Regions from separate parts of the Homo sapiens genome. Here region 1 is linked to region 2. The links come from fine-mapping of genetic effects on gene expression. A gene starts in region 2. The other region holds a variant in brackets. All regions are shown on one strand. Distances are between the middles of the regions. Region 1 has its middle 170 kb from the start of LINC02533. Region 2 holds the start of CDYL (chromodomain Y like).

Region 1 (8,594 bases), 450 kb after region 2:
TTTCCAGCTTCATTGACTATACTTGTTTCAACTCTCTATTTGTTGAGGGAGGCAGAAAGTATAGGCTAGACTTACTCACTTATGGATTCAGTATTGTATTTTAAAACATTTAAAAATATATCCAGCATCCAGATGCTTTCCATGGGGAGCTTTTCAGCATATCTGGTCTGCAATACTTTCAGAAGGAACCAAATTGTTTTTCTCAAACCCAATAACTTCAGTTGGTTCTTCTCAAATTATTATTCTACCTTCATGTTGAATATCCTTTCTTGGCTACTTGAAGCTATGTAAAAGCTATTTTAATTGTTTTCTCTTTTTGGTCAATTAATTCTTATTTGCCTGGTATAATTTGTTCAGTGTATTGTGTTTCTTTATGGTATTTGTGCTCTTCAAATGTGTCATTATCTTTTCCTCTGAGCTCATATTTCCTTGGTTCTATCAAAGCTGGCAATTGCCCTCCGACCATAAATCATTAGAAAATTGGAAAACAAAATCTATTAAACAACTGTTTTCAGACGTTGAACCACAGGCAGCACAAGACTATGACTCCAGTGAGAACAAAGACAAATGAAGTGAGCCCTGCACTTGTACCAGCTTCCTACCTGGCAGCCGTTTCTAGGTTACAGTGCAAGGAGGAAAACCCAATAATTCCCAGCAGTCTTACCTAGTGAGGAGTAGAGATCAGAACTTGAGAAAGCAGAAGCACCTAGAATTGGCTGGGTGGATGCCTGGAGCAGTGGTAGCTACATGGAGTGAGGGCTTAAGAGAACAGAGGAGTCCCCTGGCGTCTTTGGCCAAATTGTGATCTGAGCATGCATGGAAGGAAAATCCACAACACCAGAGAAAGAACCACTGAGAAGCAATAGGTTGAACAATTCCCGGAGTTCTCACAGGGCTGGGGAGAGTTTGCAATCCCATCAATTATAAGAGACCTCACAATACACAGGGCATTGGATAGGGAGAGTCCTTAGAAGGGCCACACCTTAGTAGTGAGACTGTTAGCCTTAGAGTAAGGGCTGCTCTGGATCTACCCTTATAAGCCTGAAAAGCAAGCCTCAAAAGGATCAGTCTGATCTGCAAGTAATGTAACTGCAGGAAGAACACAGTCCAACACTCTTTAAAGGAATATGACAAAATCCAGCATTCACTGACCTAAAATTCTTGCTGCTCAACATTTAAAATTTGTTTATAATTTGTATTAACTAATTTTTCTGGGAATCATGTGGTCTTGACTTAGGTCTTATTTAAATCTATTTACTAAGCCTGAATGTGATCAATGTATAAGAAATTTACAGAGATTAAGTACCCAAATACTCAAAGTACTTGTATTCTTTTAGTATCATATATCCCAAGAGCTATGAACAACCAGTGTTTCCCAATGGTTTTTAAATTATTGCTCCCCTAAGGAGTATTTTAAACATTTTTTTATAATTACTCCATTGCATAAGATTTTAATATGGCAGATATAATGTATACACTTTTATGCATTGGCTTACGTAAATGTATATCTATGATTTAGACATTAAAAGAGTAAGATTTTTCCATCCCCTTGGGAACAATATTTTTCCCATTGAGAATGCATGCTCTAGAGCCTCTGCAGTCAGTTATTTCAAACATTAAAAATGTCAGTCCTTTATGCTTATCTGCCTGCACGTCCTATCTTCTAGCAACAAAAAAATTAGAAGTCAAAATTTTCAAAATGGATTTCCAGTGGCATCCAAAACATGAAATATTTGACAAAAGAGGTCAAAAAACCTGTACACTGAAAACTATGAAAAGTCACTGAAGAAATTAAAGACCTAATTTAAATGGACAGCTACACCATGTTCATGCATTGGAAGACTTTAATGTTATTATGATATCCACTTCCCCCAAAATTGACCTATAGATTGAATATAATTTCTATCAAAATTTCAAATTTTTTAATATATAAATTAACAAACTGCTTCTAAAATTTATATGAAAGGTAAAAAATCTAGCTTGGATAGTCAAAGCAATTTTGAAAAAGAACAAAGTTGGGAGACTTACACTGCCTAATTTTAAGACTTAATCCAAAGCTACAATAATCAAGACAATTTGGTCATTGTGTAAGGATAAACATGTGGACTAGTGGAACAAAATAGAAAGTCTAGAAATAGACCATACACAAAGCTGCCAAGGTATTTCAATAGGGAAATAACAGGGTCTTTTTTTCAACAAATGGTGCTGTAATAACTGGCTATTCATATAGAAAAATATGAGCATCAACACTTATCTCACGCCATATAAAAATATTAATTCAAAATAGGTCAAATACCTAAAAGTAAAACTTAAAACTATAAACTTTCTAGAAAAAAAATATAGGGGAAAATCTTTGTAACCTGAAGTTAGGCAGATATTTCTTAGTTATGGCCCGAAAAAGTATAAACATAAAAGAAAAAACACAAATTGGACTTCATCAAAATAAAAAACTTGAAAACTTTGAAAGATATTGTTAAGAAAATAAAAATGCATGCCACAGACTGGGAGAAAAATATTTGAATAACATACACATTATAAGGTATTTATCTTTAGAATATAGAAAGAATTCTTGGAACTCAGAATAAGAAGACAAATAACCCAATTAAAAATAGAAAATATATTTGAACAGGAATTTTACCAAATAAAATATATGATGGCAAAAAAAAACCACAAAAAGATCCACAACATCATTAGTTATTAAAAAGAATGCAAGTTGAAACCATATGTTACTAATACATACTACTAGAATGTCTAAAGTTAAAAAAAAAATAAAACTGACCATACCAAGTGTTGACTAGGAACTCTCAAACATTGCTGTTGGGACTGCAAAGTGGTACAGTCACTGTAGAAAATCAGTTTAGCACTCTGTAATACAATTAAACCTACATTTTCCATATGACCCAGCAATGCTACTTCTAGGTATTTACCCAAGAAAAAGAAAATATTGTACATGAGTGTGTATAGCAGCTTTATTTGTAATAGCCAAAAACTATAAGCAACTCCAATGTCCATCAACCAGTGAATGACTAAATGACTTTTGGGATATTCATGCAATATTCAGCAATATGAAGGAACAAACGACTGATACATTCAATGCCATGATGAATCTCAAATGCATCACACTTAGTGAAAGAAGCTAGACTACTTCTTTCACTACCATATGATTCTATTTATATAAAATTGTAGAAAAGGCAAAACGACGATGATAAAGAACAGATCTATCTTTCTGGGGAAAGGTACTAGGGTGGGGTATTGGTACGGGAATTCTGTAAAGGGTCATTAGTGAACTTCTTGAACTGAAAAAATTGTTGTGTCTTGATTGTGATGGTAGTTACACTAATACACCCACTTGTCAAAACTCAACACTGAAAACAAGTAAATTTTATACACATTATAGTTCAATAAATCTGCCTCTTTTTTTTTTTTTTTTGATGGAGTTTCGCTCTTGTTGCCAAGGTTGGAGTGCAATGGCACAATCTCAGCTCACCACAACTTCCGCCTCCCAGGTTCAAGCAATTCTCCTGCCTTAGCCTCCTGAGTAGCTGGGATTACAGGCGCCTGCCACCACGCCCAGCTAATTTTTTGTATTTTTAGTAGAGATGAGGTTTCACTATGCTGGCCAGGCTGGTCTTGAACTCCTGACCTCAGGTGATCCACCTGCCTCAGCCTCCCAAAGTGCTGGGATTACAGGCGTGAGCCACTGCGCCCAGCCCCTGACTTTTTTTTAAAAAAGCCCATACCCCTAAGTAAATACTTCTAATTCTAAATACATTCTGGATTTCAGAATGAGTAGAAGGGATATGGACTTGGAAGGATCTTCTGGCTTTACAATCTGGGTTCAGCAACTCCTCCCCACTTATTTGCCACAGGTAAACCTGCTGCTAGGTAGATCTGTCTTCCAAGATCTGCTACATAGAATGCAACTGATAACACAGGAGTGGCATCCAGGATGAAGAAAAAAAGAATTCTCAGGATCTTCCTGATCCTCTCACTGTTGTTACTCTTTCACTCCTTACCCAGCCAGTCTCTGGGCCTTCCCTAATTTTCGCCTCTTGCCTTTGGCTGGCTCTAAGCTGCTGCTGCTGTTTTCCTTACCATCCATTTCCCCATAAAAGCGTGAGTAGTAATGTGGTTGAGGGGGAGGGCCAGAGGTGGAGAGATATAACTAGAAAGTTTTCTCAAAATTCATTCCTCAATACCAGGCTCTCTCTCACTCTATGTTTTCCACTGCACCTGGAACCACTCTATTTCATCTTCCCAAAGATTTCTCATGATTTTTGCACTAGATTCTGGGAACCATCAATATCTTCTGGCTTCTTGGGTAGAGATCCTGGGAAAGAGCCAACAGCTGGTGCTTGTCCATAATCATTGTATTTACTGAATTCCAAACTAACTTTTGTCTTGAATCTTTTTGCTTGAATAAAAGTTGAAATTGGATTATAAATCAATGCAACAGTCAACAGCAGCTCTACTGAAGCCAAGGTGGGGCTGGGTCCCATAGTGCTGCCCTACAGGGTTGGGAAAGAAAGACAAGGAAGATTCCAGGAACACTGA[A/G]TACTGAAATCAAAGAAGCAGAGACAGAGATGATGTAATGTGCTTGGGGCAATATGAGCAGGCCAGTCTGGAGGAACAAGAATAAAGATAAGGTTGGAAAGCTGGGGGTGGGGTGTCAGTTCATGGGACTTTACATGACAATGGAGGAAGTTTGTTTTCTGCAGGCAATAAGGAGCCATGGATAATTCAGATGATCCAGCAGCATTATGATCTGATACGTTGTTTCAGGCTTAAAAGCCAAACTTCCCAATGGAAAGGCAAAGAAGCTGCTGGGGATAGGGGAGCTGGAGCACTGGGCTTTTGTCAAGAACTCTTGGCTGGTGTAATCGAAGGTAGGAAATGCTGGAAGCACAGAGCAAGAGCAGAACTTTCTAGTTCAGCCTCCGGATTTTACAGCTGAGGAAACGAGGCCAAAGAAAATCAGAGACTAGCCAAGTGTCAAAGTGAGTTAGTGGCAGACCTGGGACTAGAATACTGTTCTTTGGACACTCACACCTATGCTCAGTGCTGGCAGCAAGGCCTTCACACAGTTGTGCAGTTGGAAGTAGCCAATGATTTTCGAAAATTCCTATTCATGGAGGAAGACGTATAAAATGGTCAGATCATGGAAAATGACATTCCAGTTGGGTCTTTCCAACCCACTGTACAGGAACAGCTTCTCAGACAAAGTGTATTTGCCCGTGGTCTTTCCAATAAATTCTCAAATAGATGTCAAGATTGAGCAGTCAACTTGGTCACTTCCTCAAGCAGGCTTTTGGACTTAATGGAAAGTGCACATCCAGCCACCTAAGCACTTGAGCCCAAACCCTGGCTCAACATCTGGTCCCTGTTTCTCAGTGTCAGGTTGAGTGGATTGTGCAAAGCACACATGCCTCCTACCAATTTAGCAATTGATAACTTGCTCTGGGGGAGCACTTACAAGGAGTCCTCTTGCTCTTTGTCTTTATTCTCTGGCTATTGGGGGTTTTTTAGGTCACAAAGAGGGAATGGGACAGGGAAAAAACTTAAAAAATTATTTCTCAATCTCAAACTGGGAGCCAAGTAACTTAACCTACTAATTGTTCTGAAAGATTTCCTTTGCTCTTTCTCCTTCAACACAACAACCTCTTGTCAGAAATCATTCATTGTGGCCTGCAGAAATTACACACTAAATTCCAAGGTTGGCCACTAGTATAAAATAATAGATCATTAGTAGACTTCTATGAATTACACATTTATAAAATAGTCCAAAAACACCATCTGGGTTGCTGCAGGTCTGCTGGGGAAACAGGTAGGGAGATGGAAGGGTCTGTGTCTTGATTCTGAGCCAGACATTTGATTGATGACTATATCGGACAGTTGACGTCTCATCTTCATTAGCAAATGTATTCCTATTATCTACTCAATGACCTAAGATCAATGTAAAAAAACAAAAATGATAACAAAAACCTTTCCCGAGCTCAAAACTTTCATGTTATTTTTTTTTCAAATGTTTCGACTGATTGGAAGAATTAAAATGAAATTTACTTCAAAAGCAGCAAACATGAGTGATGTTGTGTGCACATGAACTGGATTTATTAGGTTAAAAAAAAAAGCCCAAATAAACCATCTTAAAATATGCTAATACATGTCCATAGCACCCACAACACACTTTTCCCTAATGTTAAATATGAAAATACAGTGCAAATCACCCCGGAAATGTGTGGTGGAAAAAAAGGTATACCGTGGCTGAGATAATCAACACACACTGATTACTGTTTTTCTAAGTGCTTATGAGTCTTTTGCATTTCTTCTATATAATTCAGTATCAGAGTTAATGACGTATCATAGTTTTCTCTGATTCAGAAGCACCTCAATTCCTGAAAGTTTTTGCTCCCTTCAAGACAACTTATCTGCAGCAAAATTACCAATAAATCTCTCAGCATGAGAAATAACAGGGCTGAATGACTTTGTGATGAATAAAGAGGGTGGTTGGCTTCTCTCCATTCATCCTGATAATCTTCATTGCTATGTAAACAGTAAGAAACATTATCATGATTCATGTTCAAGTCAGTTCTCAGCTCAACACTGTATCCAGAGAAATGCTACCTAGTAAACATTTTATTAGGATTGCAAGGCACCGGCAAGAAAATGGCAAAAACATGACAGCCTGAACTTGTAAGTGAATGTGTGCATGAGAAAGAGGAATACTGAGAAAGAGTAATTAATCTCTGTGAGATCAGACACATTTAGCAGCATGTCTAATAAATGAATACTCTTCTAAACATGGTTAAACTATTCACTTTTCATTATTCTCATCAGAATCCATGTTAACCCAAGTTAGGAGATAACAGGAATAAACAGTAAATCCCACAATAAGGGTTTCAAGTCCTTCCTATTTTTAACATCCCAAAACTTAGAAGTATGAAATCAATATGATCATTACAGGGGTGCTGAAAGGCTGGGGTTGGGTAGATATTCTAAAAATGTCTGAGAACTGATAGGATCATATTTCCAAACAAGTCCAGACTTCTGTCATCTGTGCCCAGTTGGAAGAAAATTCTCAATGTAAGAAAATCATTCTCAGGCAGGCACCTGGAAGAATCTGTGATTGCCAAAACATTTCCAGTGAACCACTTTCCCTCTCAGGATACAAGGCCCCGATCCATTTGCATAAAGTCCTAATGCTAGAAAATCAACCAGAGTAGATAAGATCTGCCTGTCGGTTTCAAGCCAAGAGGAAAAGAGGAAGCCAGACACTCCTCCAAAGCTTTCTTTCCCCTTAGGATTGCATCAGTTCCCACTCTATGGGATTATTTTTAAACGCTGGTTTAAAATATTCCATAGCCCAGCTGTTCAATACCACAACATAAGGTCAATTTTATATAGTTGTACATCCTTGAAGAGCTAAAGTAAGGTGACCCAAAAGGCCAATTTTCCCCACCAATAAAATATTCATTCTTGGAAAGCTGCCATTGTGTTATGACACTTATATTTCCTTGTTTCACTAATGTAAAATTTGAACTTTGAAATACATTTGTGGATTTAATGTTTGTAGTTCTCAGGCTTGGATCACAAGATCTCAGTGTGTATCAATTACGTTTGCTAACAATGAACTGAGCCTAGATATGTCAAATCCAGTGATACTTCCCAATTGCATAGAGCCCAATTTAGCCAACCAAATTTCTTTTGAATTGTCAGAATGAGCATTGCACCTGTGAAATAGTCAAAAGAGGAGCTACTCTGGGAGGCTGAGGCAGGTGGATCACTTGAGGTCAGGAGTTCAAGACCAGCCCGGCCAACATGGTGAAACCCTGTCTCTACTAAAAATACAAAAATTGGCCGGGCATGGTGGCCTGCACCTGTAATCCCAGCTACTCAGGAGGCTGAGGCATGAGAATCAATTGAACCCTGGAGGTGGAGGTTGCAGTGAGTCTACATGGCACCACTGCACTCCAGCCTGGGCGACAGAGCAAGACTCAGTCAAAAAAAAAAAAAAAAAAAAGAAGAAGAAAAGAAAGAGGAGCTACTGCAACATAGGATGGTGAGGAAGGGAGGTACTTAACACAGACTAAGGAGCAAGAGCAACTAGCAAGGTTCAAATCCAAGCATGCCACCTGTTGGTTTAGCTGAGGGTCTGTGCCTCAGTCTTCTCTTTCAAATGAGGAAGGAACTTCCTTCACAGTTTTGTTTGGAAGACTAGATGAGATCATACCTGTGAAGCTCTTAGAAAAGGTTTTAGGCTGTGGTGAGTGTGCATGGTGTTTGACATTAGCATCCTCACGAATCAGCAGAAGCTTTTTTGTTTGTTGATCCTCACAAAATTCCTGTAGAGAGACTCGTTTTACAGATGAGGAAACTGGGACTCAGAGTGGTTAAATAACGTACTCAGGGTGATACGGTGAGAAAGAAACATCCAGGAATATTTGCTTGTTTTCTCTTTTGTGCTGTTGCTCTCTAGATACTGTATTTTACTTCTTTTTTGAGCTAACCAAAATTTTTATTTCAGTACTTTGAATTATCCCTTTTTCTCTTCTTCCTTTTATCACATCTTCCCTTTCCCCCTTTTCCTTTCTTCCTAC
Region 2 (8,594 bases):
AGTCTCATGGTGGTTACTTGACTGCTAAATAAATTAAGGTCCTCTTGACCTCACAGCTTTCTCTGGTGATATAATCAGTTTATAGAATACTTTCAAATCCTAAATCTTGAGGAAGGGAAAACAGGTTTGGTTTCATGGTTTGAGAGTTGGATGGGTTTTTTTTCCTCTTTAAAAATGGAAAACGTTTTGTAGAATTGCTTTTACACGCTAATGCCATTTAAGCCTCAATTATTTGGTTATCATCCTCCTATTTTACTGATGAGAAAGTTTAGGATAGTTAAGACAAGTACAAGATGAGTTACTTAACAAGCTTCTAAGAACAAGGGAAGGCCGGGTGCAGTGACTCATGCCTGTAATCCCAGCACTTTGGGAGGCCAAGGTGGGCGGATCACTTGAGACCAGGAGTTTGAGACCAGCCTGGCCCACAAGGTGAAACCCTGTCTCTACTAAAAATACAAAACATTAGCCGGGGCGGGGGCGGGGGCGGGGGGGGGGGGGCGTAGGCGGGGGTGGTGCACGTCTGTAATCCCAGCCACTCAGGAGGCTGAGGCATGAGAATAGCTTTGAACCCGGGAGGCAGAGGTTGTAGTGAGCTGACAACATGAAGCCACTGCACATCAGCCTGGGAGATAGAGCAAGACTCTTGAAAAAAAAAAAGAGAAAGAAAGAAAGGAAAGGAAGGAGGAAAGGAGGGAGGATTACCACCCAGATCTTCCAGCTCTAAGTCTAGAGCTGGGATGAAAGTTAGAAATACCGTCTAACTTCCATACATCCCCAACCCTTGAGTAAACCCAGATTCCTAAACAGACTATGACAGTTGATCACCTACAGCAGGGCTTAACAAACAACAACCTACAGGGCAAAGCCAGCCCACTGCCTATTTTTGTGGAACCTACAAGTTAGGAATCATTTTTACATTTGTAAGTGATTGGAAAAAAAACACAAATGTGTATTTCATGACACATAAAATGATATGAAATATACTAAGTGAATTTTACTATCCATAAGCAGTTTGAGACACAGCGCACATTCATATAGGAGTCTACGACTGCTTTTGCACTACATGAGGTGAGCTGAGTGGTTGCAACAAAGACCATAATATAACCCACAAGTCTAAAATATGTATTATCTGGCCCTTTACATTAGAAGCGTGATGTAAAGGACGCTTGTCTTTTTGTGAAAACTATGAAGTTCTAACCTACGCCGCATCAAAAATCCGTTTTTCCTCAATCCTAGCAGCTGGAAAAGTAGGGAGTAAATCTATTCCATCCTTCAACTAATAGTAACTCTTCAAATTTTGCAAGGTTCATGCTCTACCCATCTTTTCCAGGATCTGTTCCTTTATTTTTTGTTCACAAAGCCTAGTTTCAATAGCCATTTAAACATTTACTAAAGACCTATTACTACATACCAGGTTCCATGCTAAGTATTGGAGACATTTCTTTTAGGCGAGAAAACCAAGGCTCAGCAGTTGGGTAACTCACCCAAGTTCCCAGTTACTGCAGACCTGTCCTCCTACCAGACCATGTGAGTTCAAAGAAGCAAGACTTCACATTTCCTCCTGTCAATATATCCCTCTAGATTTGTGGAGCCTGAGGCCAAACAGAAAACTTCTATTTCAGTTTAGGCAGAACTGGACAAAACAAGGCAACTAACAACCCTTGACTTGGCCACAAAACATCATCTTAGTGTCTTTCCCAGCCTTGTCAGACTATCGCGTTCATTTACAATTGCGTATCACTTCTGCCCTACAGATAATACTGCCTTTATGAAAACAATACAACTCTATACCTTTAGAAACAAAACCAGGTTTCAGGGAGGCATTTTAAGCCAGTTACCATACAATCATCATCACTTACTGGGTGCTTGCCATGGGAATTTTAGGGTGGGCTTTACATATGTTCTCATGTAAACTTCATAGCTCTATAAGGGAAACACTGATCCCAATTTCACAGATGAGGAAACTGAGCTTTCAAGGCTAATTTACCCAAGGTGATAGAGTTGGAAGTCACTAACTGGGTTGTCTGACTCCAAATCTAGGCTCTCAACTGCCATGCAAAACTTTCAATGTCAACTTTCAATGGTAACATAGTCACAGTGTTGCCTACAAGTAAAAGAAAAGTTACAAATTTTGCCTTGAAAGATACTGACCACTACATATTTACTACACATACTTAAATTTATCACCTGAACTATACTTCTATAATACCTTTTTTTCCAAAACTAAAATAAAACTCAGAATCAAAAGTTCAATTGTGCAGGTGTATCATTTATTTGCAATATACTTACTTCCTCCCCAACAGACACTCCTTGAAAGCATGAACCATTCTCACACCTCAGTATTTCCCCATGAAACCTCCATATGGCAAGCATTCAATAAACGTTAAATGAACACAAACTTAGTACAAAATGTTACTCATTAATAACTTCTGTTAGGAACAGAAACCTGAAGATATAGAATAAGCACAGAAGGAACTAAACTTAGTTCATAATATACTAATGGGAAATGTGCTGTCTTCAGAATCATTCTTACACACATAGGATACAACTTACGTATAAGGTGCTACTCTCATCCACTGATGGAACTGATTATGTAATCATACTCATAAAAGCAAATGCCAAGAGTGAACACTCATGACTAAACAACCAAAGAATGATCTAATGTAGAAACTAAAATCCCCCATACCCTCATGCTATGTACTTCCCCCTGTACAGACTTCACCTGGAAGACCTCAACCTCAAACATCCTAGCCTCCATTTCTGTGTCTTCCAGACACACAACACTTTCCTTCCTAGAAGGAAAGCTCCTGAGAACAGGGAGATTTTTCTTCTTTTACATCCCCAAATGACCTAAAATAGTATCCTGAATACAGCGGGGCACAGCTAATGTGTAAAATGGTTGAAAAGAATGGAACATTTTCAGTACCAGCTAAGGTATACTGACCACATACAATGTAAGGAGAAGCAACAACCTTACCCTTAATTCTACAGATGGCAGCTTCCTCCTGAGAACTTCTGCAAACACTTGCTCTTAAAAAGCAACAAAAAAGTTGCTAGAAGACTAACATCGCAGACAACAAAGCTCTATTCTATGCCAACAGCAATAATACGCCCATAAGAGAAGACAACTGAAAGGATCCCTGGGGCCACAGGGCTCTACTTGTTACAGATGCTTCCTTAAGTCCCTCAACACCCAGGTCCCTAAACGCATCATAAAGGTGAGTCTAGAGAGTCTTCGCAAGTTTTAAGTCTCTTAGGAACTTATTTATAAATACATGTGAAACAAGAGAATCATTTATCCAGAAGAACAGAAAGCCTTCCAAACTTCTGTACTCCCAGGAAGTCTACTTTGAAATACGTCAAAAGAAGTTACATGGAGACATACAAAACATGTCTAAAGATCCAAATTGGTAACTCTCAAACTTGAAGCTGGTTTAAACCCATCGACCAGAACTTACAGTTCTGGCTATGCCCTTCTCATTTGCAACGCTGCGGCGCAAATGAATGACGGTGTATCAGCGTTAAATTTAAATTTCCTGGCTCTGGCCACAATGCTAACCTAATTAAAGCATGTGGTCAACGTTTAGCATTTTCGGTGCGAGATTTTGCATCGCTTTGGCGAACAGCAAAGTCGAAAGCGTTTGCACCGGTCTTCTCCCCGCCACCCCCCGACCAGGGGCAAAACCCTCTCCCAAATGCTTTATCAAATGATCCAGAAACCCCCCCACACCCCACCCCCCGTACCGCCCACGGTCCCCGCCGAGCGGCAACGGAGGCACCACTTCCACGACCCACGCCAAGAGCACTTTGAGCTCAGTCCGAGCAAGTCACTTGTGTCAGCACCACTTCCCCACGGCTGGGACCCCCCCCCCCACCCCACGCCCGGCAACTTCAGGACCCCCCGGCCGGGGCCCCTCGGAACGGAGGCTCGGGCTCCCCTCACACACATTTCCCGTCCAGCAAACTGCGGCCGCGGCGGGGGAGGGGACGCGGCGGGCGCGGGCGGCGAGCGGGGCCGTCGGGCGGCGCGGCCGGGCCGGGAGGGGCGGCGGGCGGGGGGCGGCCCGAGGCCGGGGGGAGGGGAGGTACCTCGTACAGCTCCTCGGAAGCCATGGTGGGCGGCGGAGTTGCGGGCGGGAGGGGCAGGGTCGGGGCGGGCGCCGGCGCCGGGCGGCCGACACTTTGTTTCAGTTGGGTCCTGCGTGGCCTGCGCTTCCTGCTCCCGCGGCCGGCCGGGCGCTGGGCACGGACGAGCCTCTTGCACTCCGCGGCCAGTGCGGGCCGGCGGCGCGGCGGGGTTGTGCGCAGGAGCAGCTACGCAACGCGCCCTGGGCGCCCCGCGCTCACTCCCCGGCGGGCCGGCTCGCGCTCGGGCTCATCGCGCCCCGCCGCGGGGCCGGGCGGGCTGGGGCGGGCGCGGCGGCGTGCGGGCGGCGCGGCCGGATCGCGGCTCCCCTCTCCGGTGTAGTGCAGAAAGCTTCCTACTTGCGACCAAAAAACCTGCCCCGGCTACTGAGCATGCCCAGTGCGGCCGCCCGGCCCTGCGGAGCCGCGCTCCCGCGCTCCGGGTTTTCGGGCCGCCCGCGCGGGAGGGGCGGGGCGGCGGCGGGGCGGGGCAGCCGAGGGGAGCAGTGGGCTCCGCTCGGGGCCGAGGCGGGCGGCCGGCGGGGCCGGGAGCGAGCCGGCAGGAAGGGGAGGAGCGGGGCAGTCGGGGGCGGGGCCGCGAGCGCGGGGGGCGGGGTGGTGGGCGGGGCTCCGACTTCCCCAGTCCCGCTTGCGGGGTCGGCCTGGCCCGCGGCACCGCCCCCCAGCCCGCCTCGACGTGGGCGCTTGCGGCCCGGCCCAGGGCAGGCGGGACCTGGACCTCGAGGTTCGAGGCGCAGCGCGGTTGTGCACACCAGGACGGGCAGCGACGGACCCGAGATGGGGCAGGGAACCATGCGAGCGAGCCGGCCCGCGTCTGGAGCCCACCGCCCCGACGGCAGCGGCCGCGCCGTCTACCGCGCGCCTCCCTCCAGGAGGAGCCCAAGAGGCGGCCTCCGTGCGCCCGCCCGTCCGGGGCCGGGCCAGCCCGCGAAGGGCCGGCGGCGTGGCCAGGTGGAGCACCCACCCCACCCCATGCCCGCCCCACCGGCCGCCGCCAAGACCCGGAGCCCGGGCCGCGCGCCCCGCGGGGTGGCCCGGCGAGCTCCGGCTGGCACGCTGGCTCCGCGGCAGGCCGGGGGTGGGATCCGGGGGGCGGGAGCCGGGCGCGGCGGAGGGCGGCGCGAGGGCGCGGCTGCCTCCGCTCTGCCCGCAGCTCCCCCCACGCCAGGCCTCTGGGTTCCTCTCGGAGCGTCCGCCTCCTCCGAAGCGCAGCTGGGAAGGGACCGAGTCTGGATTCCAGGGAGGTCCGGGTTCTAATCGAACGAGGCTGTCAATGGTGGTTCCTTTCGCGGAACGGTGTGGACTACACGACAGGCCCTCGCTCAGAACAGCGAGGGCTGGCCCGCGCTCCACTTCCCAGGGAAGATCTACTGCCAGGGCACACCTGCCGGGCCCTGGACGTGCCCCATCGGTGGCGAAAGAAGGGGCTTCCTGACCCAACTCCCCCAGACAGCCGCCAACTCCGATCACTCTGGCCGAGTATGCGGAACTTCCCCACGGGGCACTGCAGAGGCATTAGTTCACCCTCTCCCCCAGGCCCTGCATCGGGAAGCCCTCGCCAGTTCCTCCATGTCTCCCCGGGCATCCTTCGGGCCGCCTCACTCCTCCGTGCTCCATCTCGCTCCAGTTCCTAACCTACCTTGGAGCCACAAGGCTCCTCCCACCAGTTTTCTTCCTAAAGCCCTATTCGTTTGTGCCCCCCAACAGCGTTTCAACAACCACGGGGCGTCTCACAGACCCCGCGGTTTCCTGTCCTCCCCACGCCCAGGAACAAGCACCACGCCAACCCTTAAGTCACTGCGAGTCGAATCGCCGTTCCCCTTAAGCGGTGCTTCTACCTGCGGTCCCCACCGTTTGAAACAAACTCCCAGCTCAGGGATCACCTTAAAAGGATAGCCTTCCTGACTTCCAGGGCCAAATCGGTAACTCCCTCTTCAAGCGCTGCCTAAGCACTCACGCGTGCTCACTGCAGCACTCGTCTCTGTATTTTAAGGTTTGTCTACTCTTCACCCCACCCCAACTCCAAACGATGACCTTCAGTCAGACTTCATCTTCAAATTTGACGCTGGCCCCTAGCACCATTCTCTATACAGGAAATAAGGTGTTGTTCAATGAATGGAATTTCAGTGTCCACGAGAAAGCCCAATACCTACACATCCAATTCCCATTATCAAATGTTTGCACAAGAATCGCAAATTAAAGCCACCACTTCATCAACTGGTCAAGGCGCCTCAAGCTCTGCCTCTTTCCCTGATGGCCCAGCCAATTCCCTCTCCCTCCTCCAAACAGCGCCTCTTTCCTCTCACTTAGCATTTCCATTATATGCTGCATTTCATTGTTGCCTTCTCTCTAGGTTTACCAATTTATCAACAAAAGTTGTAAGTTCCTTGAAGGCAAGGACTAGGATTTTATACATTTGGGAAATCTCAAAGCATTGAGTGCACACTTCGGCAAGCGCTCAAATACTGGCAGGTGATAGTTTAAAATCCCTCAAGAAAAATCAACTGTAAAAAAGAGATCCTCAATAGGAAATAGATACATATAACATATAAGCCTATTATGCAATGATGGACCAATACAAATACAAGCACTTCTCGCCATGACCATTACTCCAATTATTGCCCCCTTCAGAACATCCACAAGCTTAGGCATTCACAAGGGGCTCCACCATGTGCGTAATGGTACTGTGGTCTCCAAGGAGTCTCCAAAACTGCCATTGTTGCCCAGGAGAGGGAAAGAAAGGAACATAGACATCCACAACAAACATATCCAGATATTGAGCTAGTAAGGCGATTTTCCCCATTGTGGAAACAAAAAGGGGAAGAATTATAGCCTCAAAAAGGCAACTCAAAAATGTCAATTTACATAGACCTTTGTCAATTTACGTAGCTTTTCAATCTTGACAATCTGGAATGTTTATGCTGCTATCCTTAGTCTACAACATTAAGAGTAACCACCAGTAGCCTCTAAAACAAAGCAGGAGTGAGCCATACTCCTAAGTTCCAACCACCTCTCCACTCTGACAGTTGGCTTCCACTGGCGAAGGAGATGGGTATCCACCTAGCGACTGAGAAATTGAGGAAGTTCTCAATTGTCCACTTTGTTCCTTTCATCTGCCCTCCATTTAAAACTCACTGATTTATGGAATGCTATTTTGCTTATATATACATATATATTTTAACCTCATTCGTTCAATTTGTCTTACTTTTAAGCAAACTTTGCTTTCCTCCGTCACTTTTTTATATAAACATTTTACCAGCACTCATAGCAGAAGTAAATATGCCCAAGATTATTTAATGACTTGGAATTTCCACCACCTTTTATGAAACAGTGAAGTTCTGTAGTTTCCATGACCACGTGTGTGGGTGCTATTATTTTCTCAGTGGCTTAAGAATAAAAGTGAAATCACATCCCCTAAGCACACCGGGAAGATTGCAGCAAAAATACATACAGCACAATACCATGCACTAGTAAGACATATGACTCTTAAAAGATTAGAGAAGTGGTCAACAAGAGAGACGATATACACACATGATTAAAAGACACGTCTACCAGCAATAAACGATTCTTACCTGACCTGCTCCCGTTGTTGTAGGCCAACATAATTCAATTCTCTCCTCCTCAAATCCAAACAATTGATCATCGATGGCAAGTTCTACCGACGATAAGACTCTTCAGATCAAGAATCACAGCCTCTTCCCATCTCGGGAGAATGATAACTAAAACCTGAAATCTGAGATCCTCCTCTTTTCCCAATCACCAGCCAAACCAGGCATGTCTTCCTTTCTCCCAAGAATCTGCATTTCATCTACATTTGAATCCAAAGGCATCCAAGGGGAGATGGGGGATGGGACAGAAAAAAACAAAAGAAGCCAAAATCTAGCTACTACTATTCTCAGAGCCAAAGGCGTTTTATGGTTGGGTAGCTGTGAAAAGCTACTGATAATGATTCCCTTCAACAGTTTTGTACCCCCAAAGCATATTCTATCCTGGTTACCTCCTCCATAACCCAAAATTTAATTGTGATTTTTATGAAGATGCGACCTAAGTTTGTTGGTTTTAAACCCACAGTGGCTGAAGGGAAATTAAATGCCGTTCTTGTCATAGAGTATCTACTCCAGAAAACTTGGTGGAATTTCCATCTCAATCACCCACTCAAAAGAAAGAACATTTTAAACCTGAGACCCAAAAGAAAGAAGCATACAGAACCATTTATAAGATTAATTCAGATGTTAGGGGCCTTGTCTGAACTGGGAGCCAACCAGTTCTTCCTTCCCTAAAAGCTTAGAGTGGATACCAGTACCTTTTTCTGGTCAACCAATAACAGCTGATTCCTTTTTTCAGTCACTGTTGCCTTCCCTGCCCAAACAGTCAGTTTCCCCATTTCGAGGGGCAGCCTCTCCCTGCCGCCCTCCATGTTGGTCCCAGGTAGGTACCATTTCTCTCTT

The links. PIP is the estimated chance that this variant, and not a neighbour inherited with it, causes the effect.
Region 1: its variant is fine-mapped to the expression of CDYL in skeletal muscle (GTEx, PIP 0.97).

Annotation. Positions count from the first base shown.
Region 1 is chr6:4,319,026-4,327,619 of GRCh38, reverse strand. No RefSeq gene overlaps it. Among named protein-coding and RNA genes, the nearest start is that of LINC02533, 170 kb to the left of the region's middle. The variant A/G (reference allele first, on the strand shown) is at 4,555.
Region 2 is chr6:4,772,303-4,780,896 of GRCh38, reverse strand. It overlaps CDYL (chromodomain Y like), which reads right to left and starts at 4,493. Exons shown (of 7, transcript NM_004824.4): 1 at 4,090-4,493. The coding sequence starts at 4,113. CDYL-AS1 (CDYL antisense RNA 1) reads left to right here and starts at 5,471. Exons shown (of 2, transcript NR_183279.1): 1 at 5,471-5,625; 2 at 6,140-6,371. RefSeq lists silencers at 4,142-4,691, 4,712-5,341 and enhancers at 5,149-5,802, 7,727-8,278.